Linked DNA regions of Homo sapiens. The protein of the gene in region 3 interacts with the protein of the main gene of each other region in a pairwise test. Each region holds a gene or a part of one and is shown on either strand. Other genes may lie near its edges.

Evidence for each region.
Region 1: the proteins of SPATA12 (region 3) and GSN interact in binary tests that used the Homo sapiens proteins (3 or more experiments, as listed by UniProt).
Region 2: the proteins of SPATA12 (region 3) and NUP58 interact in binary tests that used the Homo sapiens proteins (3 or more experiments, as listed by UniProt).
Region 4: the proteins of SPATA12 (region 3) and DNAJB6 interact in binary tests that used the Homo sapiens proteins (3 or more experiments, as listed by UniProt).

Annotation. Positions count from the first base shown.
Region 1 is NC_000009.12:121,263,135-121,271,164, reverse strand, and holds the start of GSN (gelsolin), read right to left. Parts: upstream 3,004-8,030; 5' UTR 2,946-3,003; intron 1,241-2,945; exon of another isoform or gene 1,109-1,240; intron 1-1,108. UniProt on the Homo sapiens protein: Calcium-regulated, actin-modulating protein that binds to the plus (or barbed) ends of actin monomers or filaments, preventing monomer exchange (end-blocking or capping).
Region 2 is NC_000013.11:25,325,539-25,332,733, reverse strand, and holds part of NUP58 (nucleoporin p58/p45), read right to left. Parts: intron 5,819-7,195; coding exon 5,700-5,818; intron 5,305-5,699; coding exon 5,222-5,304; intron 1,378-5,221; coding exon 1,176-1,377; intron 1-1,175. UniProt on the Homo sapiens protein: Component of the nuclear pore complex, a complex required for the trafficking across the nuclear membrane.
Region 3 is NC_000003.12:57,056,060-57,063,754, reverse strand, and holds the start of SPATA12 (spermatogenesis-associated protein 12), read right to left. Parts: upstream 3,092-7,695; 5' UTR 2,969-3,091; intron 1-2,968.
Region 4 is NC_000007.14:157,409,922-157,417,116, reverse strand, and holds part of DNAJB6 (dnaJ homolog subfamily B member 6), read right to left. Parts: coding exon 7,116-7,195; coding exon of another isoform or gene 7,009-7,115; exon of another isoform or gene 2,430-7,008; intron 1,102-2,429; coding exon 1,019-1,101; 3' UTR 1-1,018. UniProt on the Homo sapiens protein: Has a stimulatory effect on the ATPase activity of HSP70 in a dose-dependent and time-dependent manner and hence acts as a co-chaperone of HSP70. Plays an indispensable role in the organization of KRT8/KRT18 filaments.

The DNA.
Region 1 (8,030 bases), on a different chromosome or scaffold from region 3:
ACTCCTGGCTTAAGCCATCAACCCAACTCGGCCTCCCAAAATGCTGGAACTGCAGGTGTGAGCCACCATGCCCAGTTAAAAGATAGCTTTTTATTATTATCATGCAAACCAACATCTCTCCATTTTACACATGAGGAACCAGAGGCTCAGAGAGATAGGATTTGCCCAAGGTCACCCAAAGAACCAAGACTGGGGGTCCATTTCCAAGTCAGTGCTTCTAACTTCTCTCACACCTGTGGTCTCTGATAAGCAAATATACACACCCAGAGGCCGCAGACACAGGATGTAAAAGTTTTCTTAAAGAAAACCAGAGCTCAGTGTCTCAGCAACGTACCATAGACCAAGCAGAAATCATCTCTATGACCCACATCACAAATGACCCAAACTATTCACATGGAGTAGGGGAAAGTGACCCACTGTCACTGGATGGCTAAAAGTGAAGGCATCCAATCAACGTGTTTGGCAGGAGTGCACACACCATTGTTAACAGTGGCGACCTCTGGGGAAAGAGGCGGGCTTGGAGGGATTCTTTAACAATTTTTGTTTGTTTTAAAACTCATGAAAAAGAAAAAAAAGTTACAATGCTGAATACCTTAGCAACCTTCTCCAGTAGGTCTAGCCTGTTGTCTGCTTTTAGATGAAATTTATAGCAGGTTCTGAGACCTTCAGCTGGGCTTCCAGAATCTGCTGCTCTGACCCATCCCAGTGGCCACTGCTCTAGTTCAGACCTGCAATCTACTTCACTTGAATCATGCAACAGCCTCCTCAGGGCCTTCCTGCCTCCAGATCAGCCTCGTTCAATGCATCCCCTACATCAGCCATTCAGAATAACGAGTTTTTAAAAATCACTGCTCTGTCAAAACCCTTTCTCAGCTCTTCATTGCCTTCAGGATGAGGTCCAAACCCTTAGCTTATAATCTAGTTCCATTTTCATTTAGATTCTCAACCTCCCACCACCCCGCCCTTCTCCCATCCTCCACTCTAGCCACATGGATGGCTCAGAAAATCTCAGTGCCTTTGCACTAGTGGTTCCTGCTTCCCAGAATGTCTTTTCCCCCAACTCCTGTTTCTCCTGGTAAATGATTATTCATTCTGAGGTCTGGCTCACCTAGACAAAATTAGTCACTCCTCTTGCAGGCTGAAGTCACTCTTAATATGGCACAAAAGTGTCAAACAGTATAGATGGCAAGCATCTTGAGGACAGAGAGCTCTGTCCTCTTCCAAGGCTCTTTGGCCCCTCGCAGGGCAAGGCACAGAACACAGGCCCAGAGAAGTGCTGAAAGGAGGGAGGCGGGGAGGAAGGAAATGCCATGCGGGGCAAACCCTGCAGCCACCCCTCCTGGGAGCAGCCTGTTTCCAGGCTCATGTTAGTCCCTAATAAAAGGACTGTGGAAAATTCTGGAGTAAACTTTCCTCCCCTGATTCACACAGAAACCTTCTTTGCTGCTGTGTAACTCACCGAGTGCCAACCCAAGCTCCCCTGGCTGTTTACAATTTCCCTGGCATTTATAAATAGCATGGCCCCAGAAAGAAAAATGGAGTTTCAAAGGAGCTGAAAGCCGACCGTTCCCACCCCCATCCTTCCTCCTCTGTTTCCAAGCCTCTCCCCCTTAACAGCCCCAAGAAACACCAACCAGCACCCCCAAGTGTGTATGTACAGGGAATGCTTGTCCCTTTAGTAAACGGAACACCCAAGAAGGAGGCTAGAGTCCCTCCCAGCAAGGAGTCCGCAAACGGCAGACCGGAATTGGGTCTCAGCCCTACCCTGCCTCACTGTGTGACAATTAGCCCATCATAAACTCTCTGGGTCCTTGACTTTTCTCAACTGTGAAATGGAGGAAATGGAGATGGGGTAAGATTCTAGCAAGCTATGGTCGCTGTAAACGGCAGAGCGGTGAGAGGTCCTGGTGCCCTGGTCAGAAATGTGGTCCTGGGAGAACAGGACACACAGGATTAAGTGTTTGAAAAGTCCCCAGATGCCAAACAAAAGCGAAAGGCACCTCCCCAGAGGCCCCGCCTTCCACAAAGTCCAATTACCCTCAGGACAGCCCAGAATGAGTTCTGGGTGTTTTAAAGCTCCCTTCCATGCTCTGAGGAGGGTGTGAAGACAGGATAAAGCGACAGATGTCTGGGCAGACAAGGAGCTAGGAAGAAAGCCAATGTCTCCTGCTCACCCACACCCCCAGCCCCCAGCCTTCCAAGGACTGGGGCTTCCCCCTGGGCACTGCCCAGACCAGCCAGCCTGCACTGGACCAGAGGGAAGTTGCTGTTATTTAGGTTCTGGGGGGCTGGACCCCAGAAGACATGGGGGCTCAGGGAGAAGGGGTTCCAATCACTGTCTTCAACTCCAGAAGAAGCTTCCGTGTGAGTCAGGGAAGGGAACACTGCAGGGCCGGGGAGAAGCCAGCACCTACAGGTAGCAGGCGCCTGAAGATTTCAGACAGTGTAAGGAAGAACTTTCTAACAGTCCCCAGAAAGAGGAAGCAGCTGGAGAGGAGAGCAGGCACAGGTATCGTCCAGGAGGCAAGGGTCCTCTGAGTGGACTCCCCAGCAGAGTCACCGCCCAGACCGTAGCTGGTGGTCCCCTGCATGCCCGGGTCAGACAACCCAAGTGCAGGGGTGACCCCGGGCCAGTTCCCCCATCCCGGGGGCGGGGTCGAGGTTATTAGCTCAGGTGCTAGCAGCACAGTGGAATCACGGGGTGGAGGCCTGGCCCCTCTCCTCTCCTGCTCCGGCGTCTCCCCATCCCCCAACTCCCATCCACACTCTTTGGTCCCTTGGAAGACGGGAAAAGTGAGCGAGGAAGCCCTTTTCCAGCGATGCCCCCGCGGCCGGGCCGAGCTCCAGGCGCGGGCGAGATAGGACCGGGAAGGAAGGGAGAGGAAGGACTCAAATCAGCCCGGGACCCCCAGATGCCCGGGGCCGGGGCCGCGCGCCTCCCCTACCTGCTGCTGCGGCACTGGAGACAGCGGCTGCTGGGTCCAGCTGCGCTCAGCTGGTTCCGGGCGGCGGGGCGGGGGCGTTGTGGTGCGCGCGGCCGGGGTGGGCAGGGCGCGGGCGGGAGCCGCCCTCGGGGCGGGGCGGCCGGGCAGGCGGGTGGGGGAGGAGCGCCAGGCCCTCCCGTCGGCTGCTGGGCGGGTGGCTCCAAGCTCGCCTTCGTCCAGGGGGACCCCTCGCTTCACCTCGCAGGAAGGCACCAAACCAAGCCCTCTGCTTTCCCCTGGAGGAAACTGAGGCCCGGAGCACGGAGGGGAGATCTGAAGAGGCCTAGGGTCGGGGAGGAGACCCAGGGCAGCTCCTGAGCTGGGCTGGGGCCAAAGAGCTCAGATGGGACGGGCAAGCGAGCAATGCTCAACTAGCACCAGCGGAGGCAGATTTCAGCCCTGGAGAGAACGGACTTCAGGAGGCAAAGCCCTCGAAGAGTGACATAGGCTGCATGCAAAGCAGGGGAGATTCCCTCCCACGGAAGGGAATAAGGAGGAAGAGCGATTCCCAGCTCATTCCGAATGAAGTAACGAAAATGCCAAGTGCATCCCTGGTCCTTAAAGTGGACCATTAAGCAGGCGCCTCGGAGTCAGAAGGCCTGGTTTGGAACCCCAGACATCGACTAGTCCTGTAACTTTGGGCAAGCGAGCTCACATGTCTAAGTCTCCGTTTCCTCGTTTGTCAAATGGGCATCCTGAATTGCCGCTTCATGGGGCGGTTGAGAAGACTCAGTGAGAAAAAGACTCTCAGCACAATGACAGGGACCGTGGCTTCTGCATAAACGGAAGGGATGTTCTTATTAGTGTCATGGCAGATACTGTTTTAGGAGATTGAGGAAATCCACATTGGGTAGAAAGATGAGTGCAAGGTCAATTTTAAGCAAATGTAATACTTTGTTGATTTCAACAACATCTCATATGCATTTGAGACGATAGCCGTTTATAATGCAGCAAGGCATAAGACGGCCTCCCAGCAGTCCTGGTGCACACATGAGTTCCCAGGACTTTTGGAGTTGCCGCGTGACTCCGGTTTGGAAGGATTCACACACTCCACAGGAGACTGCACCACATGACAGAGATGTCCATTCCCAGCCTGGGTGCTGGCAGCAGCCCCATGTTCAGCCAGGGTAAAGCTCCCTCTTAACACAAGGTAAAATGTACTAGAGTCAGTAATTGCCGGGTGCTGGGGATCAGAGCAGAAAAGGCTGTTGTTTAAGTAGCACAGAAGCCAAGAGCACAGTGCTCACTCCCTGGTTTTTCCATTGAATAGCAGCCAGGGAAGCCACAGGACCCAGGGAATCTCACCCTGGCTCTTCCTCCTGCCATTCTCTCTTTGTTCAACACCAGTAAATACAAGAACCATTTCTTGAATGCCTCATGCCATGCTCTGGGCTTCCCACGTATTACCGACTTTAATTCTCACCTCCCTACCTGGCCTCCTAAGGGAGGCATTACCATGTGTATTTTTCAGATGAGCAGGCCAAGCCCACAGAAAGGGTTAAGTACTCTCTGGAGGTCACACTACTGATACTGTGCAGTCTACTCTTCTATGCCTGAGTCCTTGGCCCTCGCTTCTTTGCTCAATGTCTTATGTCACACTCTGCCACCTTTCCTGGCTTGGGAAATTCTGCCCAGTTCCACTTTCTCTGAGAATACAAGCAAGGTATCCACCCCGCAGGGAGGCTCACACCATCTCTGCTACTCTCTGCTTTCTCCAGAGGCTGCCTGGGGCCCAATGCAAGGCTGCTGGGGAGAAAAGCAAAAACACAGGCTTATTTGGCTCTGGAATCTTTGATTACAAGCCCCGGCATACACATGCCTTGGAATTATCTAACATATCATTTCCAGCCCCAGCAACTGCTCTCAGACAAAGGGAGGTGGAACTCTGAATCTGTGTCCCCATAGAACTGGAGAATACCACATCACGATGGAGGAAACATTGGAGAATGTCTGCTCCAACTCCTCCCTTTAGAGATGGAGAAACTGAGGCCAGGAGAGCAAAAGGGTTCACATTCTAAGCTAGATCTAAGGTTCCATATTCTAAGCTGGGTCAGATGCCTACCCATAACCCTGTAATTGCTCCATTTGGTGGCTGGAGAGGAACATGGGAACAGGGTATCACCAGGAATCATTAGAAATGATAATGAAGATAATGATGATGATGATTGATTGATGATGATTGTGATGATGATAACCAATACTTACATGGGAGTGCTCCTCTAGGAACACTTCTAGAAATCTCCTGGTGCTTTGCTTTATGACTCAACATGTGTATTTTATAGCTGGCAGGATATATCAAGTCTGCCTTTCATGGATGCCTAGAAGTCTTCTTGGTATCCTGTCTTCATTCCTTTCTAGATACCTCTTTGTACTTCTCCCCCCATTGGATCTAGGTAAGGTAAGGCCTGTTTGTCCTGGATCCTCACCTCAGAGTGAATGTCTTGCTGATAAGGATCTCCTCTGATGGAAGAACTTTGATATCTTCTTTTGCCAGAAGACCACCTCCTTCCCAGAGTGAGGCTGGGGAGAAATGAAGGCCACACACAGGCCAGGCATTAGACAATCTGGGGGTACCTGCTCTCTCCTCTGAGAACGCCTCTTCCCACCCAAGGGGATGGCCCTCACTTGCACCCAGGTTTGTACTGTAACCTTCCCCCACAACACAGTTGACAGCATGAGGAGTGGACGGCAGAAAAAAGCTGGACTATTAGAATTTGGAGCTGGAAGTTGAGACATGACAATCATGGTTAATTAACTGGGTCTGTGAGGACCAATGATCTCTGAAGGCCAAGGCTGCCATTTTGAGGTGGCCATCTTCCATCGTATTCACAGAGAAAGCCAATGAGGCTCGTTAAATGACTAGAAGGGTGTCGCAAAACTCACAGAGGAGATGCCTGGGCTGGGCAGCCCAGGAGGCTTCAGGGTTCAGGGGCTCTTCTGATTACAGACCTCTCCTGGAGCTGGCTTCAGAAAGAGAAGTTATCAGCACAAGTATTTGTTGAGCATCGAATGCCTTGTAGTTTGTCCCTAGAAGCAGAGGATGAGACAGGGATTTCATACAAGGGATTACTTGAGAGAGCACTCTCAGGAGATCCTGAAATATCCCATGGAACACTAGGGCAGGGGTGCAGCTGGGCCTCAGGATCAGACCACAAGCAGGACCTGAGTACTAAAGGGAACCCAGAAAGTACTCTCTCCCCCATCTTTCATCTCTGCCTGTCTGCTCACATCACACAAGCATTTCTGCTTTCCAGAAAATGGCTTTTACCAGCAGCAAGCTGGAATCTTTGTTTGTAGTCCACATTCTAAGTTGGATCAGATGCCTACCCTTTATCTAATTAACTCTGGCCCGAGTGACAGGGTCCTACTGCACAAACCTGGCTGCTCCCACTGTAACCTGTGGGTGGAGGGGGTGCACTTCCCAGAGAAAAGGGGAGGGGAAGCCAAGCAGAGACAACGGCTTGGATTCAGTCAGCCTTGAAAGGATGGAAAGAATAAGAGTGGAGGTGAGGAAGGGAACAGCATCTTCTGCTAAGAGCACAGAATAAGCAAAGGTGTGGAGGTCAGAGAAAGACAGAGCTGGAAGAAGGAAAGGAGACTGTTATTTTCTCCAGCCTCGGTCCCCTTTAGTGTTGTGCTAGTGTTGTGTTCTTAAGAACTGATTTAGTGTGTTTAGTGTTGTTTTCTTACGAACTGATTGCTCAATTTCCATGAATTTTTGTGGATTTTTTTGAGACAAGATTTCACTGTCACCCAGGCTGGAGTCAGTGGCACAAACATGGCTTCCTGCAGCCTTGACCTCTGGGCTCAAGCAATCCTCCTGCCTTAGCCTCCCAAGTAGGTGGGACCACAGGTACATCCCACCAGGCCTGGCTAATTTTTATGTTATTTGTAGAGATGAAGTCTCTCTATGTTACCAGACTGGTCTTAAACTTTTGGGCTCAAGAGATCCTCCCACCTCAGCCTTTGAAAGTGCTGGGATTATAGGAGTAAGCCATCACACCTGGCCAAATTTCCATGCATTCTTACACCCAGCTGTATTAAGGCTGTATTAAGCACAGCCTTCAATAACAATCTATATAAACTTATAATTAAGTAAATTATAAATTGATATGGTCTGGCTCTGTGTTCCCACCCAAATCTCATCTCGAATTGTAATCCCCATAATCCCCATGTGTCAAGGAAGGAATCTGGTGGAAGGGAGGTGATTGGATCATGGGGGCAGTTTCCCCCATGCCGTTCTCATGATGGTGAGTTCTCATGAGACCTGATTTTTTTTTTTTTTTTTTTTTGAGATGGAGTTTCCCTCTCGTTCCTAGGCTGGAGTGCAATGGCGCAATCTCGGTTCACCGCAACCTCCACCTCCCAGGTTCAAGCGATTCTGCTGCTTCAGCCTCCTAGTAGCTGGGATTACAGGCACCCGCAACAACGCCCGGCTAATTTTGTATTTTTAGTAGAGACGGGGTTTCTCCATATTGGTCAGGCTGGTCTCGAACTCCCGACCTCAGGTGATCCACCTGCCTCAGCCTACCAAAGTGCTGGGATTACAGGCGTGAGCCATCTTGCCCAGCCGAGACCTGATTCTTTTAGGAGTGTTTGGCAGTTCCTCCTTCACACACTCTCTCTCCTGCCACCACGTAAGACTTGCCTGCTTCCCTTTCCACCATGATTGTAAGTTTCCTGAGGCCTCCCAGCCATGTAGGACTGTGAGTCAATTAAACCTCTTTCCTTCATAAATTACCCAGTCTCAGGTATGTCTTTATAGCAGTGTGAAAATGACTAATACATAAATAGAGGTAATAAATTCTCAAAACTTAGTACTTCATAATTATTTTACTATATTTCACTATTATCTGTGCTCTTATTTTCACCATTTATCTATATGGTAGAAATACTGTATAATTGTGTGCAATTGCATTTCTACTCGCAACTCCACACTCAGTGACATCATGCTGGTAGCCCAGTCCCCACGGTGGGAATATTTACACCATGGAGATCAGGAAAGGCTATAAATCAGGGTTTTCCTTCTCCCTCCACCAAGAGCCT
Region 2 (7,195 bases), on a different chromosome or scaffold from region 3:
CACTATTCACATGGGTCCAGCCACGGGATATGGAGGATTTGGCATAAATCTATCATCAACCCTTTACTTATGGCAAGTCAATTCTGTCATCTCCAAATGTGAAGAACAATTTTTTAAACTGCCAATAGTGAAAACCAGAGAATGCTTCCCTAGTATAGGTAGCTTGAATGCAATCTAAATATGTATTAATTTTTTTGTGTGTATTATAATGTACTACTGGACTATATGGAACTCTCAGAAAGACACATGCTATTGAATAGTAAGCATTACTAAGAAATTTATGAATGATTAAAATAAAAAAATCAATATCGATTAAGACTATTTTTCCATGTCAAGCTTCAAACCTGACAAAAGGGATGGCAGGATTAAGATAACTATTAACCTCCGAAAGACACAGGACCAAATAAAACACTGTAGAATGACCACAAAAAATGTTTCTCTAATTAGAAGTGTAACTAAACCAAGAAATAAAACAATCTGCTTTCCATGTCACCAATTATTTTCATCTGTTCAACTTCCCAGTTGCTCCTTAATGTGCAATCCACATCTCAAAACATCTTTTTCCTGCTCTTGCTGTTCTGTTCACCTTGGAAAGGTACAATTCTAGCATGTATCATCTTCAAAATTTGGTTTAGAGGGCTTGTATTCTGTTTACAGTCAACATACATACAAACAAGCCTATTGATCTTCAACATACCTTCAGTCAATAAAAGCATACTTCATCCTGAATGTGGGTACTTTGTAATCACTATGTATGAGGAAAATGAGAATGCACCACCTATCAGTATCATATATGAAAAATTCAAAGAATGGATGGATGATCTCTGACTTTAAAACAATAAATGGTACAGTCATGATTTCAGAATCTAATGTTATTCTTAAATGTAATTCACTAGTGAAACACCATGTTCTAAAGGGCATTTATAGCATTACAGCAAATAACATTAAGTAGATTCACAATATTCAATATCTAATTGATGTATAATTATTGCTAAGACTACCCTGCCTTTTTTATCAGGTATGTTTATAATCGTGTCCATCACAATTTTAGATTGTATTGGAACAGCTACTCATAGAAATTTCTTCAGTGCTCACACAAATGGAAGACTTATAAAAACGCACATAAATGTTCTGCATTGGAACAGTAAGAAGCTATAACTTGAATGCGTTCAGACCTGTAGCAGGCTGTTGCTGCTGTGTAAGTGTTGCAGCCATGGCAACGGCTGCTGCGTTTGGCATGGTGCTGAAAGGAGTGGGTCCAGTAGTAACTCTGGGTGTGTTCTGCCACTTCTTGGCTTCTGCTCGCCTTGTTTCAAACACATCAACAGCATCTCCCAAGAACATTTTCCTGTAGCCAAGGTACTGTTCTTTCAGAACCTAAAAGAATAATAAACAAAACGGCTAAATGAAGTTTCACATTGACTATGGTTAATATGTGGATGAATATAACCATAAATTACCAAAGACAGTCCCAATATTATACATTCAATCCAAACTGCAAATTAGAGTGCTAATAATGCACTTTGGTGTAGGAAATGATGAGTTCAAGAGTTCTACTGCTCCCTTGAATAGTTTACTCCCTATCTTTACAATATGCTTCCTAAAATACTGTCTTTGTGAGGCCTTGTTTAAAATAAATCAGCTAAGCTTTTAGACAGAGTAATATTTAAATACTCCATCAATGTGCAGATGGATGGATGAAAAGAATTTAAAAATAAATATTCCAGTTTTTCAAGAAACTTTCCCCTCAAATGTCCAACCTTTTCATAGCCTTTTGATTAAAACAGTTTAAAAAAAAAAGAAAGAAAAAAAAGTCAGCACTAAATATACATACTTTTAAATACATTTTTTAGAAGGCCTGGGTAACACATGCTAAAATAAGGTGTTGCACCTCAGCAGTGGTTGGAGGGTATGATGAGGGCTTCTACTTTATTGCTATTATTTGACCATTGTACAATGAGACTTGATTCATGTTAAAGTTATGAACCCAACCACCCGCCTCAAAGAAAAAAAGTGTTTGTAACTCCAGAGTAAGAAAAATTCCCAAGTTCATAAAGTGAGCTGCTTTTACCCAATGCAGCATCTGCTTTGATTAAGGCCATCAACAGCAACAATTCTGTTTCACTTTAGAATTATTTTATGCTTTCATTGAAGATTTAGCCTAATTTAGATAGGTTTTTAACCACTTTTTGAAGAGACACAGATTTTTCATATTTCTTACATTTCTTAGCAGAAATTAGTAAACATTAGGTTCTGATTATAACAAATACAGCACTTAAAAATCTTACTGTTGTTTATAGTATTTAAAAGCTATCATCGCCCTTTTTGTGTGGATGTCAGTGTTTGATGTTCCAATTCCAAACTTTGCTACATTTATGATGTATTAAAAAAGGGGGCCTGCCAAGAACTGGATACTGGGGAAGATACAAAGCCAGAATCAAGACATATGATGTAAGAAAAACAAGCACTACCGATCTCTTGCAAATCCACCCTTCCTTGTCCTGGGCAAGCATCAGTATCCCATAAATTTTAGTTCTACTTCAGATAATGGAAAATAATGATCCACCTTAGAAACTTAAGACCAAGACCATTAGTTAAAAGAAACAGCCTGGCCGCGGTGGCTCCCACCTATAATCCCAGCCCTTAGGGAGGTCTAGGCAGGAGGACTCCTTGAGGCCAGGAGTTAAGATCAGCCTGGACAACACAGCAAGTGCCCCTCTCTACAAAAAGTTAAAAAATTAGCTAGGTGTGGTGGTGCATGCCTGTAGTCCTAGCTACTCAAGAGGCTGAGCCTGAGGCGGGAGGATCGCTTGGGCCCAGGAGATTGAGGCTGCAATGAGTCATGATTACGCCACTGCACTCTAGCATAGGCAACAGAGCAAGCCCTTCTCAACAAAACAAAACAAAATAATAAAACAAACAAACAAAAACCTTGACATCAGCCATGATTTATAAAACAAATTGCTAAAACTTCCAAATGTGTTAATGTTCCTGAGGCCTGGCTGGATAGAATAGTTAACGCCTGTTTCAACAGATTACCTAATGAAAAACAAAACGAACAAAAAAATGTCTTGTGAGATTTCTACAAGAAATAAAGAAACCTAGAGCTTAGTTTGCTCACTAAACTAAGCTAAAAATAATGGCAACATACCAAATCTGATTATAAAATATTCTTTGGTTCTTGGGAATATCCTTTCGTTCCTGGGTTGCTTAAAGAGTAGGTCAAAATTTCATGTCTACAACGTTTATTTGACGTGATCTAGGGCAGTTTTATGTGGTCTTGGTCTCACTGTTTTATGGTCATATTACCAAAAATGATATATTTTCCAAACCAGAGAGGAGACAGTGCTGCTAAAAAAAATGTACGTTTACACCTGGCATTTGCTCTGAAATACTTCGTGGGGGGAAAAAAAGCATCTTCTGTGGAGCATTGATAAAACAAGTTCAGCAGGGTTTTGATAATGGTTGCAATTAGGTAGTCATACCTGGGCATTCAGTATAATGATAGCCTACTTTTGTGTATATTTGAAAGATTTCATAATAAAAATTAAGGAAAAGAATTCTGTGCAACGGACTTCAAAGTGCCATACATTAATTTTATTAAAAAATTAAAGTAACATTTATTATAGACTAATAGAATTTTTTTAAATCTGATAAAATTCCTCCTTTAGAACAAAATTTAAAGATTTGGGTTACAGTTTTAAATCTACTAAAGCAAAAGGTCTAAAGTGCACTACCATTTCAAAAATGGTGTAATTTAAATGGTTTACTTAAAAAAATCCTGTTACTATGCATGAAATCAAAATAAAAATGAAAATGTTGATAATTCCAATTAAACTCTATTCTACACAGTTGATAATTTATCTAGACTCAGGTTTCGCTGCTTGAATTTTAAAGGTATTTTGGACCACATACACTCCAAGATTAAAGAGTTTAATTACATTTGCTCAGTTAGTTAGAAAAGATGTACTTACCTTGAACATTTCACTTAAATACATTTTTAAAACTAACGTTATTATGAGAGTCAAAATATTCAGGCTGGGTGCAGTGGCTCATGCCCATAAATCCTAGCACTTTGGGAGGCCGAGGAGGGAGGATTGCCTGAATTTAGTAGTTCGAGACCAGCCTGTGCAACATGGCAAAACCCTGTCTCTACTAAAAATACAAAAAATTAGCCAGGCATGGTGGCACGTGCCTGTAGTCCCAGCTATTCAGGAGGCTGAGGCATGAGAATCACTTGAACCCAGGAGGTGGAGGTTGCAGTGAACCAAGATCATGCCACTGAACTCCAGCCTGGGCGACAGAGCAAGAGTCTGTCTCAAAAAAAAAAAAAAAAAAGCGAGAGTCAGTCTAAATATTCAGTGATAAATCATTTTATTTACACTATTTAATAAACACAAACAGTTCCCTGTATTTAAAAGGGAGAAATGCTGTAAGCCGGTTTTTAATGCAGTGGCCAATAAACACTTAAAACAGATAAAATTAAGGTAGTACAAAATCATTTGCTACTAAGAATGCTTATTTTCTTTTTTTTTGAGATGGAATCTTGCTCTGTTGCCCAGGCTGGAGTGCAGTGGTGTGATCTCGGCTCACTGCAACCTCCACCTCCTGGGTTCAAGCGATTCTCCTGCCTCAGCCTCCCAGGTAGCTGGGACTACAAGTGCCCGCCACCATACCCGGCTAATTTTTGTAATTTTAGTAGAGACGGGGTTTCACCATATTGGCCAGGCTGGTCTTGAACTCCTGACTTTGTGATTCGCCCGCCTCGGCCTCCCAAAGTGCTGGGATTACAGGTGTAAGCCACTGTGCCTGACTAAGAATGCCTATTTTCTATAGTGCTATTTATAGTAGTAAAGAAATAGAAACCACCTAAATATCCAACAGAAAATGGGTTAAACAATGTACAACCATACAACAAACTCCTATGTTAACTATTAAAAATGATATTCAGGAAATATGTGTATTAACATAGAAAGTTATTCACAATGCACTGCTTAAAAAAAAGTTATAATAACAGACTACAGCGTACTTGGATCTTTTTTAAAAGAACAGGTATTATCAATCGTTATGTCTGGGTATGTTATGGATTATAGTAGTTTTCATCTTTTCACTTATATGTAATTTTAGCTATTTCTGTATCAAGCATGGACACATTTGTCCCCAGATGAACAAATACTTGGGTCTACATATCCAGGTAGATAAATGGGTAATGAAAACTTACCTTTACATTTTCATGAATAGACTGAAGTTGTGCCGCTAAAGCTACAAATGTTTGATAAATTTTCTGCATAGCCATTGACAAATCTATAAAAGAAAATTACATTATCACCCAAATATATACATATATATAGCACAATCCATTTTATTTTTCTATTTGAGTCCAATTTTTGGCACAGTTAACGTGTAGGAGAAAAAAACTCTATCAACGTTCTCATGGCCAGAGAACACACAGAGTAGCAGACTGAATGTCTACAAAAGAAATCTGGGGGGAAGGCCCTAAGATTTCTGTCCTTGTTACCACAGTAACAATTCATATAATAAAGCATATTATATTTATAGGGAATAAAGGAGTAGTAAATGACTTTTAAGGAAATTTTCTTAAAGGGGCTACCAGTAGTTATCCAAAATACCTATTATATAACCACATCTATCTCCTACAAACAAAAGTTCAAAAAAAATTACCACAGTAAGCATGTTACCTTGAGGGGTTATATGTGAATTATTTGCTTGAGTGGCAAGATGGTTTTCTAGTTCTTCAATCTGCTGCCTGTACTGCTGAAGCTGTACCTCAAATTGCTGAACCAAGATTCTGAAGTAGCTTTAAAAAACATTTAAAAAGTCAGATCAAATATTTTTTTAATTTGGAGTGACAAATCCAAATTAAGGAATATTCTGCAATCATTTAATAGTCTTCAAAAGTATCAAGGTTATCCAAGGAAAGGAAGGACTGAATAACTGTGACTGGAAGATATTAAGGAGAAATTACAAATGCACTGTGAATCCCAAATAGGATGCTGAAACAGAAGTACACTAGTGGAAAAACTGGTTGAATTTCAGTAAGTTTAGTAGTTTAGTTAATAATATTGTAACAATTTTAGTTTCCTGTTCTTGGTAATTATACTATAGTTATAAGTTAACATTAGGGGAAGCAAGGGAAGCGATATAAATAAATTCTCTGTACTACTATTTTGGAAGTTTTCTGTAAGGTTAAAATAAATTTAAAATAAAGTAGAAACGTCTACCAACCAGATTTCAGAATTAAGAATTTATAGTCATTTTATCAATGAAATTTATAATCTGAGAACACCATAGTATACTACAGAAAGCACATGTAATTATTGCTACTTTTCTAATAAATTTACCCACAGAGAGTGCTAGACAGATAAAAAAAAAAAAAGAAGGTATCTTGAATAGTATACAGAGGAATCTGAATGTCTTTCAGTAAACAATGGGCAACCATGAATGCATTTTGCAAAATTAGCTCTGATGGCAGTATTAAGTACAAGACAGAGGGATAAAATAGTAGAGGAAGTCCAGTGAGGAAGCACATCTCATGCCAACCTGAGTAAGACGAATATCATGGGCATTATGAATTTCCTGATTTTGAGAACTGTTAAGTATGAGAATATCCTTATTTTTAAGAAATATCCACTGAAGTACTTTAGCATAGTGAACATTATTTCTGCAAATAACCCAAACTGTTTGGGGGAGAAATGTATATACACACATAGAATGTGAGGAACAAAAATATGGTAAAAATGTTAATATGTAGGAAATTGGAATGAAAGGCATACAGGAATTTTTAGTTCTCATCTTGAAACTTTTCTGTAGACCAAAATTATAATAAAAAACTAAAAGAATAAAATAAGTAAGGGGCCAGGCGTGGTGGCTCACATCTGTAATCCCAGCACTTTAGGAGTCTGAGGCGGGAGAATCACTTTAGCCTAGGACCAGCCTAGGCAACACTGTGAAATGGCATCTCTACAAGTTAATTAATTAATTGTGAGGGACCAGGAATCAAACAGACCTCCACCACTCAACTCACTTTTGCATACCTCAGTCTCTTTATCGCTAAAACTGGAATAACAACAGCTACAGAGATCTTGTGAAATATGAAGGTAAAGCATGTATAGTCCTAAGCACACTGCATGGGAAATAGTAAGCATTTGGTAAACATCAGTTATTATTATCTTCA
Region 3 (7,695 bases):
ATCCCAATGGCCTGTTCTCTGTTGCCATCCTTCCTGACTACCAGCAGCGTGTGATGGAGTTGGTCACTTTCTCTTCCTCGAAGCCTTGTCTCACCTGGCTTCTAGGATGCCCGACTCTCCTGATCCTCTTCCCACATCTCTGTTAAGGAGCACCCCAACCTCCTGGTTGCTCAGGCCCAAAGCCTGGGGCGTCATCTTTGACTTTTGTATCTCTCTTCTCTTCACTTGTCAAAAGACTCTACTTGTAGAGTGGCCACTGCTCCCCTCCCGCTCCTACCACCCTCCAGGTCATTCTCCCCTCTCACCTGAATGACTGCGGCCTCCAAGCCTCTGCCTTTACCTCCTTTCAGCTTGTTCTCAACTCAGAGTCAGAGGGAACCTTCTGAAGGGTTGGCTACTTCTCTGCTCAAAGCCCTCAAATAGCTCTCATTTCACTGCAACAAAGCCAAAGCCTTTAGGGTGGCTGGCTGCAAGGCCCCATGTGATCTGGCTGCATTTCCTCTCTGACTCCTCTCTTAGTTTGCCCTTCCCCCTCATAACCGCACTCTAGCCACATCACCTCCATGCTGTTCCCTGCGTGGGCACCTCAGGGCCTTTGCACCTGCTATTCCCGCTGCCCAAAATGCACCTCTCCCAATATCTGCAGAGCTTGGTCCCTCATTTCCTTCAGCCTTCCCTGGTCATCGTGTCTAAACCGTTACCACTGCATCCCAACTTCCCCTTTGCCTTCATTGCTTTTTCTCCTTACACTATCGTTATCCAATATAAGGTGTATTTTGCTTATTTATCTTGTCATCTGCCTCCCCCACTAGAATGTAAATTCCATGAGGGCAGGGATTTTTCTTCTATTGTGTTCCCTGTCATGTCCCCAGTGCCTTGCCTGGTACAGACAATAATTTGTTGAACCCGTAAAGAAAAGTTTGGTAAACAGATTAAAAGCCATTTGATTCTTCTATTATGATATAATTCTTGCCTATATTTTTCTTACCTGTGAATTATTACATATGTGTATGTATGTGTGTGTGCATGTTTGTTGTGTGTGTGTGTGTGTGCATGTGTGTAGACAGAGAAACAGCGAGTCCTGTCATTCCCACCAGATATTCCTGCTTGTTAAACAGCTACATAGTGTTTTGCTGAGTGGCTAGAGCAGCTTTATTTAACCTTGTTTTGTTCAGTACTACTGGGCAGCTTCCAATCTTTTGCTATTGTAGATTATGCAGCATCTGTGCTGGGCACTTGCCCTGCTTCCTTCCCTCTTCTCTGAAAGGCTTCCCCATGCTCCTGAGCACCCCCCGCCCCCGCCGCCGTGCTCCTGAGCCTAGCCTGAGCCCGAGTGGGGGCTGTGGTCCTGGCTGGGCCTATCATGGTTCCCCTCCCCTCGGCTGTGGTAGCCGGTCTGGAGCTAGACACAAGCCACCCTTGCCAGGCTGTGGGCTTCCTCAGGGTCATCCTAACCCACTCAGAAGTGGCAGAGAAGGTGCTTGAAGGCACTCACCCAGCGCTAGAGCAGTGAGGACAGGCCCAGAGTGTGGAGCTGCGAGGGGAGGGTTGGGCACATTGCCTTTGGATCTAGTCACATGACTGAGCTGCTCCAGGGATCTTCCTACAAATCCCCCTTCTCACCCATCTAGATGGAGTTGGATTTCTCACTGCTAGCAGTGAGTCTAGACAGATCCAATCCAGTGGAGCATCCCTGCCCCACTCTCTTTTTTTACTTGATCCTTAGTCCAGAGCAAGGAAAGATGTGGAAACCCTCCCAAAGGCATTATTCAGGGCAGAAAATGCTTGTAGGCAGAGCAGCACCTTGTTTTTGTCACAACCGGAGAAACAATTTAAATCTGAACCTATGCGGGCTCAGATACTGATGCTGCCATCTGAGAAGGAGGACCTCTCTCACCTCAGGTTCTTTGTCTGTAAAATGGGGATGAAAATAATTATACCACACCTCAGGACTAAATGAGTTAATAAAAATTCTTAGAGTGGTGAGTAACACAGGATGAGAGACTGCTCACTGAGAGTTAGCTGTGGTGGCTGCCAGAATCCTAAAAGTGTAACAGGAGTTAAACATAGAGGTATCATATAGTCCAGCAATTCCAAATCTGGGTATATACCCAAAGAAATGAAAGCAGAGATCCAAACAGATACTTGCATTCCCATGTTCCCAGCAGCGTTATTCACAATAGCCAAAAGGTAAAAATAATACAAATGTCTATTGACAGATGAATGGATAAACAAAATGTGGTATGTACATACAATGGAATATTATTTAGCCTTAAAAAGGAAGGAATTTCTGGTTGAGTGAGATGGCTCACACCTGTAATGCTGGCACTTTGGGAGGCCAAGATAGGAGGATCTCTTGAGCCCAGGAGTTTGAGGCTGCAGTGAGTTATGATCGTGCCACTGTACTCCTGCCTGGATGACAGGGCCAGACCCCATTGCAAAAAAAAAAATAATAATAAATAAAGGAATTTTTGACACATGCTACAACATGCTGATCCATGAAAGTATTATGCTACATGAGAAAAGTCAGTCACAAAAGGACACTTACAGGGGGTACCTGGAATAGCAAGTTTAGAGAGAGAAGTATTAATACAGTAGGGGCTGGGAGAGGGGCAGGTGCAGGAGGAGTTACCGCTGAATGGGTACACAGTTTCTGTTTAGAATGACAACAAAGTTCTGGAAATGGATAATGGTAAGAGTTGTACAATATGGTGAATGTGCTAGATGTCACTGAACTGTACACTTAAAAATGGTTAAAGTGGTATGTTTTATATTATATTTTACCACAATAAAAAAGAGTATAAGAGGAGTTGGACTCTCCTGGACTTTTTCTTTATAGATTGAACTTATGTCAAAATGTAGCACAGTGAAAAAACAGGCACAGGCCAAAAAAGAAGTGGTGGTGGTGTGTGCCCATGTGTGTGTGTGTGTTTCGGGGTGGGGGTGGGGCGGCAGGTAAACTACTCACAAGACACCAGAGGCTCCTTTTGAGGTCTGATACTGCAGGCTGGGATCTGACGCTGCAGGATCAGGAAGAGTGGGGGAGATGAGGGGAAGGTGAGCCTGCACAAAGAATTTTCTCAGTGACTGTGGGCAGGGCAGTCAGGACCCTGGGTCACATGGGCCCAGCCCGGGACCAGAGCCTTTGTGAGTCACAGCTCAACTCCCAGCAAACAAAGGGATATGCCAGGGAGGGGCTGAGTTGTGACTCAGAGGCTGCTGCTGCTGTGAGCTTCCTCCAGGAACCCCATCCCTTCCAGTCCCTGATTCTGACTCCTACTGTGGGGGTGGGGACAGGTGTACCCACTTCCTGGGCAGGTTCTTGGAAGGGCTCTCCTGCAGAACCTAGACTTTTTTGCAGCTCCTTTTTGATAACCCGAGTAGCAGCAGCTATACCATTTAAGTGCTTGCTGCATACGGGCCCTGGGCTAAGTTCCTTTTTTTTTTTTTTTTGAGACAGAATCTCAGCTCTGTCGCCCAGGCTGGAGTGCCGTGGCACAATCACGGCTCCCTGCAGCCTTGACCTCCCAGGCTCAAGAGATCCTCCCACAGGGACTGTAGGTACATGTCACACACCCAGCTAATTTTAAAATTTTTTATAGAGATGGGGTCTCGCTATGTTGTCCAGTCAGCTCTTGAACTCCTAGGCTCAAGTGATCCTCCCGCCTTGGCCTCCCAAAGTGCTGGGATTACAGGTGTGAGCCACCATGCCTTGTCCCTCACTTCATCTATTTATTTTTATTTTTATTTTTATTTTTGAGATAGAGTTTCACTCTTGTTGCCCAGGCTGGAGTGCAATGGCGTGATCTCCGCTGACTGCAACCTCTGCTTCCCAGGTTCAAGCGATTCTCCTGCCTCAGCCTCCCGAGTAGCTGGGATTACAGGCATGTGCCACCATGCCTGGCTACTTTTGTATTTTTAGTAGAGATGGGGTTTCTCCATGTTTGTCAGGCTGGTCTTGAACTCTGGACCTTAGGTGATCTGCCCAACTTGGCCTCCCAAAGTGCTGTGATTACAGGCGTGAGCCACCATACCCAGCCCCTCTTCGTCTTTTTAAAGCCTCATTGTCACCCCATCAGGCAGTCATTTCAGTCCTACTTTGCAGAAGAGGAAATGTGCTTATGGAGGGAAGCAACTTGCCTGAGGCTATGTGGGTGGCAGATAGCAGAGCCAGATTTGAACCTATCACTGATTAAGGAGCCTGGACTTGTAATCATGCTGCTCACCACCCTCCCTCCCCCCACCCCCAACTCATACACACACGGGGAAGAACAGACTCCAAAATGTGACTTATCTTTAGGCCAAGCTTGTCTAACATGTGGCCCAATACAAATTCATAAACTTTTAAAAAACATTATGAGTTTTTTTTTTAGTTCATCAGCTATTGTTAGTGTTAGTGTATTTTATGTGTGGCCCAAGACAATTCTTCTTCCAGTGTGTCCCAGAGAAGCCAAAAAATTGGACACCCTTGCTCTAGGCTTAAAGACAAGGCTTAAAATTTTTTCCCTGTGCTTATGAAAAAATTTAGAAAATACAAGTAATGAATATATTTTATAGTAAAAAAAGGCATAGTTAAGTATGATTGCATGTCAGCATTTCTTTTTTTTATTATTATTATACTTTAAGTTTTAGGGTACATGTGCACAACGTGCAGGTTTGTTACATATCTATACATGTGCCATGTTGGCGTGCTGCACCCATTAACTCATCATTTACATTAGGTATATCTCCTAATGCTATCCCTCCCCCCTCCCCCCACCCCACAACAGTCCCTGGTGTGTGATGTTCCCCTTCTTACGTCCATGTGTTCTCATTGTTCAATTCCCACCTATGAGTGAGAACATGCGGTGTTTGGTTTCTTGTCCTTGCGATAGTTTGCTGAGAATGATAGTTTCCAGCTTCATCCATGTCCCTACAAAGGACATGAACTCATCATTTTTTATGGCTGCATAGTATTCCATGGTGTATATGTGCCACATTTTCTTAATCCAGTCTATCATTGTTGGACATTGGGTTGGTTCCAAGTCTTTGCTATTGTGAATAGTGCCGCAATAAACATACGTGTGCATGTGTCTTTATAGCAGCATGATTTATAATCCTTTGGGTATATACCCAGTAGTGGGATGGCTGGGTCAAATGGTATTTCTAGTTCTAGATCCCTGAGGAATCGCTACACCGACTTCCACAATGGTTGAACTAGTTTACAGTCCCACCAACAGTGTAAAAGTTTTCCTATTTCTCCACATCCTCTCCAGCACCTGTTGTTTCCTGGCATGTGAGCATTTCAAGTTGTTATTTTTATGCACACTTTTGGGACCTTGAAGGGCAGGTGACATGAAACAAACCCATTGGGTACAAGTATCACTCATTTTGCTGGACGCCGAGAGCATCACAGTCTATGACAGTTTTGTCCAATGTATGTAAAACTGTAATGGCATTTCAAAAAGACCAGACTGATTTGGAACAAGTTCTCATAAATGTGAAAATAGAGAAAATAGGTGTAATGTAGATTGGCCCTTGAGGGAGCAAGTGGTAATACTAATTTCCAGGCATTCCTTATTTTTCTGTGTAAAAGGCCACATGGCTTATTTTATGGAAAGAAACTTGTTCTTTCAGGACTTTTAATTGAAAGAGATTGTGGGAAATAGGTAACCCTCCCTTCCTTTACAGTCGGCTTTTGGTGAATGTGGCCATGGCAAGGACACGACTGAAGGGTTAAAGCCCAGTCAATATGAGGAAAAGGAAATTCACTTTGGACAATAGTTTTAGTTTCATCTGAAATTTTATCAGAGTTGCTAACTTGGTGGCAAAACTGACTGACTCATTTAAGTGGCCCCTCCTCAACTCTCCCTTGTCTGTCTAGTATGGACAGTAAAATCAGTGAGAGCAAGAATTAAGCCCCCCAGTTTGTCTGTTATAGTAGGAGGCAGTCATTCATTCACTTACTCTATATCACTCAAGTATGTATCAAGTGATACGATGGCTGGAGTTCGCTTCACTGGGTTGAGTGTAGAAGAAATAATATTAGGAATGAGTTGACCACTCAAATTGTATGATGTGTGGCACAGAGGGTACATTATATTCTTTCTCCGTTTGTATTTAAACTTTTACATTTTAAAAAAGCTTGTGTGGGGGTGTGGGTGTGGGTGTGACTTACCCTGGGCCAGGCCCTGTGCTAGGTGCTGAGGAAGTCTTGGTGGCTAAGACCGGCTCAGACTCTACCCTACCAGAGTCAACAGACAAGACTCACTCAGGAAACAGATACTAATCAAATAGTCACATGAATGCAAGTAAAATTATAGTTGGGATAAGTGCTGAGAAATCATGAACAGAAATGCAGAAACCTGGACGGGCGCGGTGGCTCACAGCTAATCCCAGCATTTTGGGAGGCCAAGGCAGTCGGATCACTTGAGGTCAGGAGTTCGAGACCAGCCTGGCCAACATGGCAAAACCGCTCTCTACTAAAAATACAAAAATTAGCCAAGTGTGGTGGCACGCACCTGTAATCCCAGCTACTTGGGAGGCTGAGGCAGGAGAATCACTTGAACTCAGGAGGCAGAGGTTGCAGTGAGCCGATATCATGCTGCTGCACCCCAGCCTGAGCAACAAAGTGAAACTCCATCTCAAAAAATAATAATAATGAAAATTAAAAAATGCAGAAACCTGCAGTGTAGACCCCATTTTACCCAGGATCATAACGGGACTACAGCTGGAGGTACTACCAAGGGGGCAGGTGGAGTGACAGCCTGCTTGTGTTTAGACCTAAAGGAAAAGATGGAAGGGGGCAGGGGGCAGGGGTGTGTGGGGTGTGTGTGTGTGTATAGACCTGCATGGTCAAGGCCAAGAGGAGCCTTTGTGTTTTGTCGCCTGCTTGAACCATGGTGGGATAGAAGGATTTCAGGGTGGACCAGTTGACTGAATGCCCTTCAATCCCATAGTCTTTTGTGGTGCATCAACCTCATAGAGGACCTTGTGGTATATGTTCAAGATAACAGAGACCGGGAGTTTGAGACCATGCCCAACATGAGGCAACATAGCTACATCCTGTCTCTACAAAAAACTAAAAAGAAAGAAAAAGAAACGATAACCGATTCTGCTTAGAAAAAAATCCACATCTCTTCTTGCCTTAACTAACATGCCCTTTCCACTCCTCGTCATGCCTCCTGGTCTCATGGATGTTCCAGCTATGTCCCAATCCCTTTGCTTGCTCAGCCTCTGAGTCTGCTGGTCCTCCTGTCCAGAACACTTTTGCCCCTTCTCTTAGGGCCAGCTCCCTCCCATATCTAGTTTGGCTCAAACATTGCAGGGAGGCTCCCCATGATCACTTTTCCCTGCATACTTGCTCTGCTTCTTTTTTTTTTTTTTTTTTTGATGGAGTCTTGCTCTGTCGCCCAGGCTGGAGTGCAGTGGCACAATCTTGGCTCACTGCAACCTCCGCCTCCCAGGTTCAAGAGATTCTCCTGCCTCAGCCTCCCGAGTAGCTGGAATTACAGGTGTGTGCTGTCACACCTGGCTAATTTTTTGTATTTTTAGCAGAGATGGGGTTTCACCATGTTAGCCAGGATGGTCTCGATCTTCTGATCTCGGGATCTGCCCACCTCAGCCTCCCAAAGTTCTAGGATTACAGGTGTGAGCCACCGCACCCGGCCTCTGCTCCCATTTTTTATTGGTCTCTTCTCCAGGCTGTGAGCATGG
Region 4 (7,195 bases), on a different chromosome or scaffold from region 3:
GCAACATGAACGGCAGATCCTCATGTGAAAGGGAAGGAAAGTCACTGGGAGGGAGCATGCAGGGAAGAAGTCAAGGCAGCCCTGGAATTCTACTCCGTGCTCAATAAAAACAAAACGTGAAGAAGCAATACATCATGCAAACGAAATAATGACCGGAAGTGGGCGCATCTAGTTAGAATGAAGTGACTTTCGTAAGGAGTCAATGTTCGCGAACTGAAACATGAGTTCAACCTCCTTGTGCCGTCTCTGGGTGTTTTGCGCGTGTGTAAATACCGGCCCGTTTTCCCCAGCATGGCCCTAACCCATGGACACTAGGGAGAGTGCCACTGAGCAAAAATTTTTTGCTAAAAATAATTAGCAAAAATCCAAGAAAAAAATATGGAATCTAGCAAAACCTACACCATATTTGAAGTTGAATTTGCACTACCTGCAAAGGATGAAAATTAAAAGAGTAAACAGAAGGAATGATTTTACATCTGATGTGATTCACGACAGCCTTCTATTCGTGTGGCCGGATTGCTCTGAGGAAAAGGTGCCCTGACGGGCAGGATTCAATGTGTCACTTGCAATATTCTCTAAGTTACACTCTACTGAATTACCTTCTAATTCCAAACACTACGCCGCCACAGAAAGCCTCATTTCATGAATGTTACTCAGTTAGCCATCTGCGCCCTCCTGTACTTCTAAAGCCAGAAATATTCCAGCAGCATGCGGAGTGGTTGAGTAGCCGAAAAGAATGAAGAGGATCCGGAAGCACTAGAGGAAAATGCAGCAGATTGAGAGCTGGAGAGAAGCAGAGAGTCGCGGCCAAGTCCCAAACGTCTGTCCCCGCCACCCGTGCCGTCAGCCCCGTCTCCTGACCCTGCTCTGACTGATCCGTGATCGCATAATCCTGCCGAGCGAGTGTGGCCTCGAGACAGTCCTGACCGACGCTGCTACCTAGCGCGTGTGCACGACCGCATGCCGAGCACGGTGGAGCGCCAGCGTCTGGGGGTGCACCGCGTGCCTCAAGTCCGGTCTAGTGATTGCCTTTGGTCGACTTCTTCTTCTTCGACTCCTCTCTCTGCTTCTGCTTCTTCCTCTTGCCACCTTCTTTCAATCCTAAGGAAACACGGCTTGTAAAACACTGTACGGAACAGCACTGCTTCCCCAGCAAGAGCCAAACATGTTTTCTAAATATCTCCCCATGTTAAGAACAAAAAGCAACAAAATGAAGTCATCTATCTTGGCCACAGCTAAACCTCAAAACGGGCGCTTTCCAAGGTGCACGTTGAGAACTGCTCACACTACCCAGAGAGCTTCACCACCCTGCAGAGAAGTGAGGACTCCCACCTACCCGAGTTCCGCCCAGCGGCAGAGCTAAAAGCCCACCCTGGGACTACCCCAGTTCTGCCCAGCGGCAGAGCTAGAAGCCCACCCTGGGCACGGCTGCACCTCAGTCCTGGAACCCCACCCTGGGACCTACCCCAGTTCCGCCCAGCGGCAGAGCTAGAAGCCCACCCTGGACACGGCTGCACCTCAGTCCCGGAACCCCACCCTGGGCTCTCCTTCAGAACGCACACTGGGCCTGCGCAAAGGTGTGCCCACCTGTGGGGAGGGTGTCCACAGGTGTCTCCTCCGCTTCCCCCGCTGGCCACAGTGCAGCCTTTCTGCAGGCAAAGCCTTGGTGTGGACTGGCCTCATGTTTGCCAGCTCTGTGCCATCCAGCGTGAGAAAGTCCCATTTCTTATTGAGGAAAGTCTTTCATTTCCCTGTTGCTAAAGTCAATGGCTGACACTGACTGATCCAGCTGAAGTGCATGGAGAAAGACGCCCACCCTCTGAACGTCTGATCCAACGTGCCAGAAATAAACACCTCTGGATTCATTTCTGCAGAAACTGTCTTGAACTCAGTGTGTGCCAACGTGGGTGCAGGAAACAGGCCCGATGTTGAATTTGGCCACAATTGTCAACATGACTGGGCAGAGGGAACATGGCCGGCAGCAGGCAGGGCAGGCCTGGGTCCCACACGCACAGGCCCTCAACCTGCCAGAACTCTCCAAAGACCCACACAACTTCACATGGTGGCATCGTGCCTCACAGGAAGGTGCCTGCTCACAGCCCTCTTGGGGGCCTGAGGCCCTGCCCACACTCAGGACTCGCCCCAGAGAATCACAATCATGGTAGGCCGGGTGCCAGGCTCCAATCAGATGCATTCCACACCCAGCTGACGGCCGCCACGCTGACCAACATGTCACAGGTGCAAGTCCACTGAGTGTGGCTCACACATGTCCTGGACCACAGTGGGGCAAACACATGTGGACTTTCAAATGTGCTGTGGCTCTCACCACTGAGCACTGCCTGGACCCCGACAGCTCTCCACGAGAGAGGGACAAGCCTGCAGATCCAGTCCACACCCCACCCACAACCACACCACACCACACTCGCCTGTGACCCGTGCACAGTGGAGGCTGCCACCTTCCTCGCCAGAGGAGCGCGTCCTAACCGCCCTACAGGAGCAGCACGAGATGCGCGTTCAGAACCGCCAAGCGTTCCATGCTGCATATTTAGGAAATGTGCCTCAAGCTACGGTTACGGAAAGAAAGAACGAACAGAGAGAGGCCTGTGTGCCGTTGGCGGCTGCAGAGGCCGCTGAGTACCTGCTTCCAAAGCAGGGAGGCGGCTCTGCGGAAAACGCAGAGGAAAGGAAGCGGGAGGAAGCCAGGAGATCTCCGTCCCGAGGAGCATGCGGGGAGCCGCCGTGACTGTGGAGGGCGGCCAGGGCAGAGCCAGCTCTTGGAGGCCGTGTCCCTCAGAGGAGCCTCGTGCCCCGGGACCCAAGGGACCCCGTGGGATGGGGGCGGGGTGGGGGGGTCAGCACCGCCTGCGGTTCCTCCGCTTCAGCAAAGCAAACTTTACCAAGACCCCAGAACAAAGGGAGTAACGGAGCTCCTTTAAAGCAACTGCTGCCACTGGGCCTTTATGAGCTAGGGACGGAAAGCCTGAGGTGACCACACTGCAGTCGCCCTCACCCGCCCTGGGGCTGCCGGGATGGTGGGGGAGGGGCGGGTCCGGTACAAGGAAACCACTTTCCGGTGTTCTTCAAGCCTCCACTATTGCCGGGCGCGGTGGCTCCCGCCTGTAATCCCAGCACTTTGGGAGGCTGAAGCGGGGGGATCACCTGAGGTCAGGAGTTCGAGAGCAGCCAGTCCAACATGGAGAAACCACATCTCTACTAAAAATACAAAAATGAGCCAGAAGTGGTGGCAAGCACCTGTAGTTCCGGCCACTGGGGAGGTGAGGCAGGAAAATCGCTGGAACCCTTGAGGCAGAGGTTGCAGTGAGCCGAGATCACGCCACTGCACTCCAGCCTGGGCGACAGAGCGAGACTGTCTCAAAAAAAAAAAAAAAAAAAAAAAAGTCCAAAATTGAAGTGAGAAAAACAGAGCAGGCCTTCCTGTCACCTGAACCTCCTGCAAATCACAGACATGGCCTTGGGCACCGGCTCGCGGGCTCTGGGACTTCGTGGGACCGCCAGCCTTGGGCACAGTCCACAGAGGCACGCTCTCCCACCAGTGACTACTTAAAAACTTGTCCTGATAGAAAACGACTTAAGTTTTCTTATCAAGTTTAAGGACTTGAAAACCCTTAAGTATAAATACACAAATTAGTTTCATTAAAAAGACAAACTTCGAGCTGTTGAAAGCTGAGGGCAGGGTTAGATTCCCATCTTCAGTTCCGAGAGCTCCATGCTGTGCTTCACAAAAAGGGAGACATTCTACAGCGTTCCAGGGCAGGCTGCTTTCCTCAGCCAAAAAAACAAAGGACCTGCTTTATTCTTTCTTTCCTGTTCAGTAATTTTACTTTTCCTTTTTTAACAGTTACGTGTTCTTGATACTCCTACAGTATGTGTGGAATTCACAAACACAAAACATCACTCGGCCTTTCCAAAGCCTGAGTGAGGATCCGGTGGGTTCCCGGTGGTGCCTCTGTCCTCTGAACGCAGGCAGGGCGAGCGCTGGGTTTGAGGACTCCACACAGCAGCAAATGCCAGCCACGGGAACCCCACACCACGCAGCAGGGACAGGCGCTCCCCGCTGACTGTGACAGGGCACCCCCTGCACCCCGCGCTCCCCGACATTCCTGCTTCCACTGGCTGCACCCGTTGTCAATCACACCAGACACAAGGAGGGGAAATTCTCACAGAAGCAGTACGTTCAGTATTTTGAGGGGTGCATCTCAAGTGAGAGCTCATTTCCAGCCTAAAAAAAATCATGCCCTAGAACCGCCCAGGCCTGGGGGCTGCACACCTGGCTGTGACCCTGTGAGTGGAAGCTCGCTCACTCCTGGGAGCTCCGACAGGACCTGCTCGATTCAGGGACGGGTCAGACGGCTGGAGGCCAAAGTGGGGGCCATCAATACTGTCGGGTGGCCGGTCTCCTCACTGTATTCCTTTTACAGGAACCTTGACCAGGACATGCAAATCCCACAAAAAGATGATAGTGGGATCTTCCAGGCACCCAGAGGCCTGGCCAAGAGTCATGGGTTTTCTGTGACAAGGGGCTTCGGGGAAAGCGAGACCTTCAGTGACGCAGAAATGCAGCAAACCAGTATCCTGACTCAGGAGCCTGTGTTATCGCTACAAAGTCCATTCGTCAGAACACCCAGCAGGCTGGAGCTAAGGGGTCTGCACCCGTGTGACTTTGTCACTCCCACACTAGCACGTGCCCTTCTCTGTAAGCATGTACAGTTGTTCGGATTTGGTGGTGCAGGTGCTCATTGTATAATGAGCGAGCCTGCAGGGGCGGAGGCTTGCTCAACCTCTTCCCTGTCACCCACCAGCACCCTGACACCGGAGTTGGTGAGTGAGTCGCAAATGGCCTCTGCAGAGACCAAAACCACCCTGCTTTGCAATTTCACTCCAGTTCTGTCTCCAACTCTGCAGCGGTTTCTTGACTCATCCTTTGAGTCAGCTTTGTCATCTCTCAGTAAGAACTTAAGTAAAAGTCTCTGACGTGTTCGTTATATATTTGTATAAAAATCACGTCTTTAAATCTTTGATGGTTACTTTGGTATCTTCAAGATCTCATGAAGCGATTAAAAAAAGGAAACAAATGAGAGGAAAAGCCGCAAAACGGAAGATCCACAAAGAGGATCCGGGCAGAAACAAAAGCCATCACTGGCCTCTTTGCTCTAAGGATTTGTGTTGGGATTCAGCAGTCAACCAGTTCTCCCCACTCAGAAACGGTGTATGGCGGGGAAGCCGAGAATACGTGGGGAGAACAGCGCCTGCCTGCCCGTATCAGTCCCGCCCACAGCCATAGCCACAGGCGCTGAAGGCCTGGGAGGAGAAGACCCGCCCAGTTCTGACATACAGGTGTGGCCTCGGGCCTGCGGTGGGTGCCGTTCCAGGAGCCTCACCGCACTTTAAACATGGCTCCCCCAGGCGGCCCGCACCTGCACACCACGTTCTCGGGGCCTGCGAAATCACAAGGCCCCTAGCAGGCCAGGCTTCCGGTGGCCTCCTAACCCCAGTGGTTCAGGGACACTACAGCTACAACCCTGCTCTATCCTGCACCTTGCAAAGACCCATCGACAAACAGTGCACCCTCCCTACGGCCATCAGACCCTCCAGTACCAGGAGCGCACAACAGACCCTGGGGAGCCTCCCCAACGCCCGCTCAGTGCAGGGATCCTGGGGAGCCTCCCCTACGCCCGCTCAGTGCAGGGATCCTGGGAACCTTCCCCACGCCCGCTCAGTGCAGGGATCCTGGGAACCTTCCCCACGCCCGCTCAGTGCAGGGAACCGTGGGGAGTCTCCCCCACCCCGCTCAGTGCAGGGATCCTGGGAACCTTCCCCACGCCCGCTCAGTGCAGGGAACCGTGGGGAGTCTCCCCCACCCCGCTCAGTGCAGGGAACCGTGGGGAGCCTCCCCCACCCCGCTCAGTGCAGGGACCCTGGGGAGCCTCCCCCATGCCCGCTTAGTGCAGGGGGAGTTCTTTCTGGGTGCATGCAGCCTGCAACTGCCTCTGTCTGTCACTCAGTGACACAGCACAGACTCACACAGCAAAGGTGAGCGCAGCACGGCAGGTGGGCGGCCGGCTGGAGGGGCTGCCGTGCCCACCCACAGGCGGCACATCCTGAGGCTCTCACGGCTGGGGGTGCACCTTCCGTCCTCCTCGGAAGCGTAACCGGCAACTGTGCTTCATCCGAGAAGGACTGGAAGGGGCTAATTTTTCAATGGAAAGTTCCATGAAGGGAAAAGGAGAGACGCTTCCCCCTTCTTTTCATGTCCTGCTTAGACAGTGCTGTTCGGCCCAAGTCCACAGAAGTAACCTCACGACATCCGCTTCGGTCCCCCAAACCCAGGGATCAACCATCCATGTCTTCCTGCACGACATGAGCGGCTGGGGTCACCTCACCGCGTGCGGTGATAAGAACCAGAAGAGGCACAAATACTTCCAACTGACGCACGATTCACACTACATGGACCCTGGGCTTTAGGACGCAGTCAGGGCCAAGCCTACATGCACAGCACGTCCTCAGGGTGACCCAGAACTTCTCCGGGGCACTCACTTCAGAGACTATCCGGCTCCCTAACAGGTGGGAGGAGGGCAGGGCGGCCAAGAACCCCACGGGGGGTGGGCGGGCAGACTACGCTTCACAAGGAGGCTTGACTTGAGGGGGTCTTTTGTTCTGCACCCAGCGCAGAAGAAGGCACGAGAAGGTGAAGCTGACGGAGGGGCAGGGGCAAACGCAGACCCCACCAGCACGAGACCACCCGGCCTAAGCCACAGGCCTCAAGCTCTACGCTGAAAGCTACGAAAAGGCACGTCTACGGTAAAAGCAGCACCTCGCACTGCCGTGGCAGCTCTGTCATCCTTTGCGGAGCAACACGCTGCGTACAGGACACGCGGACCCCGTTTTAACGGTGGGGGGCCCGGAGCCACCGTGGCGTGGGGCGCCGCGAGCGGGAGAGGAGCAGAGCGAGGCTACCTCCTCCCGCCCCGCCCGACCGCCCACGCCCGCTCAGGTCAGAACACAGCAGCCCAGGCGCGGTTTGTGTCCTCGCTGTCCTCTGGCACCCAGAGAAGTCTCACTCTGCGCCTGCTCCACGGCTGCCTCCCTTTGCACACCTGCTGCGGACGCGAGGGGGTCCCAGGGCCCGGGTGCCCGAGGTCGGTCCTGCTCGCCCTCCTCCTCAGAGAGACAGTGA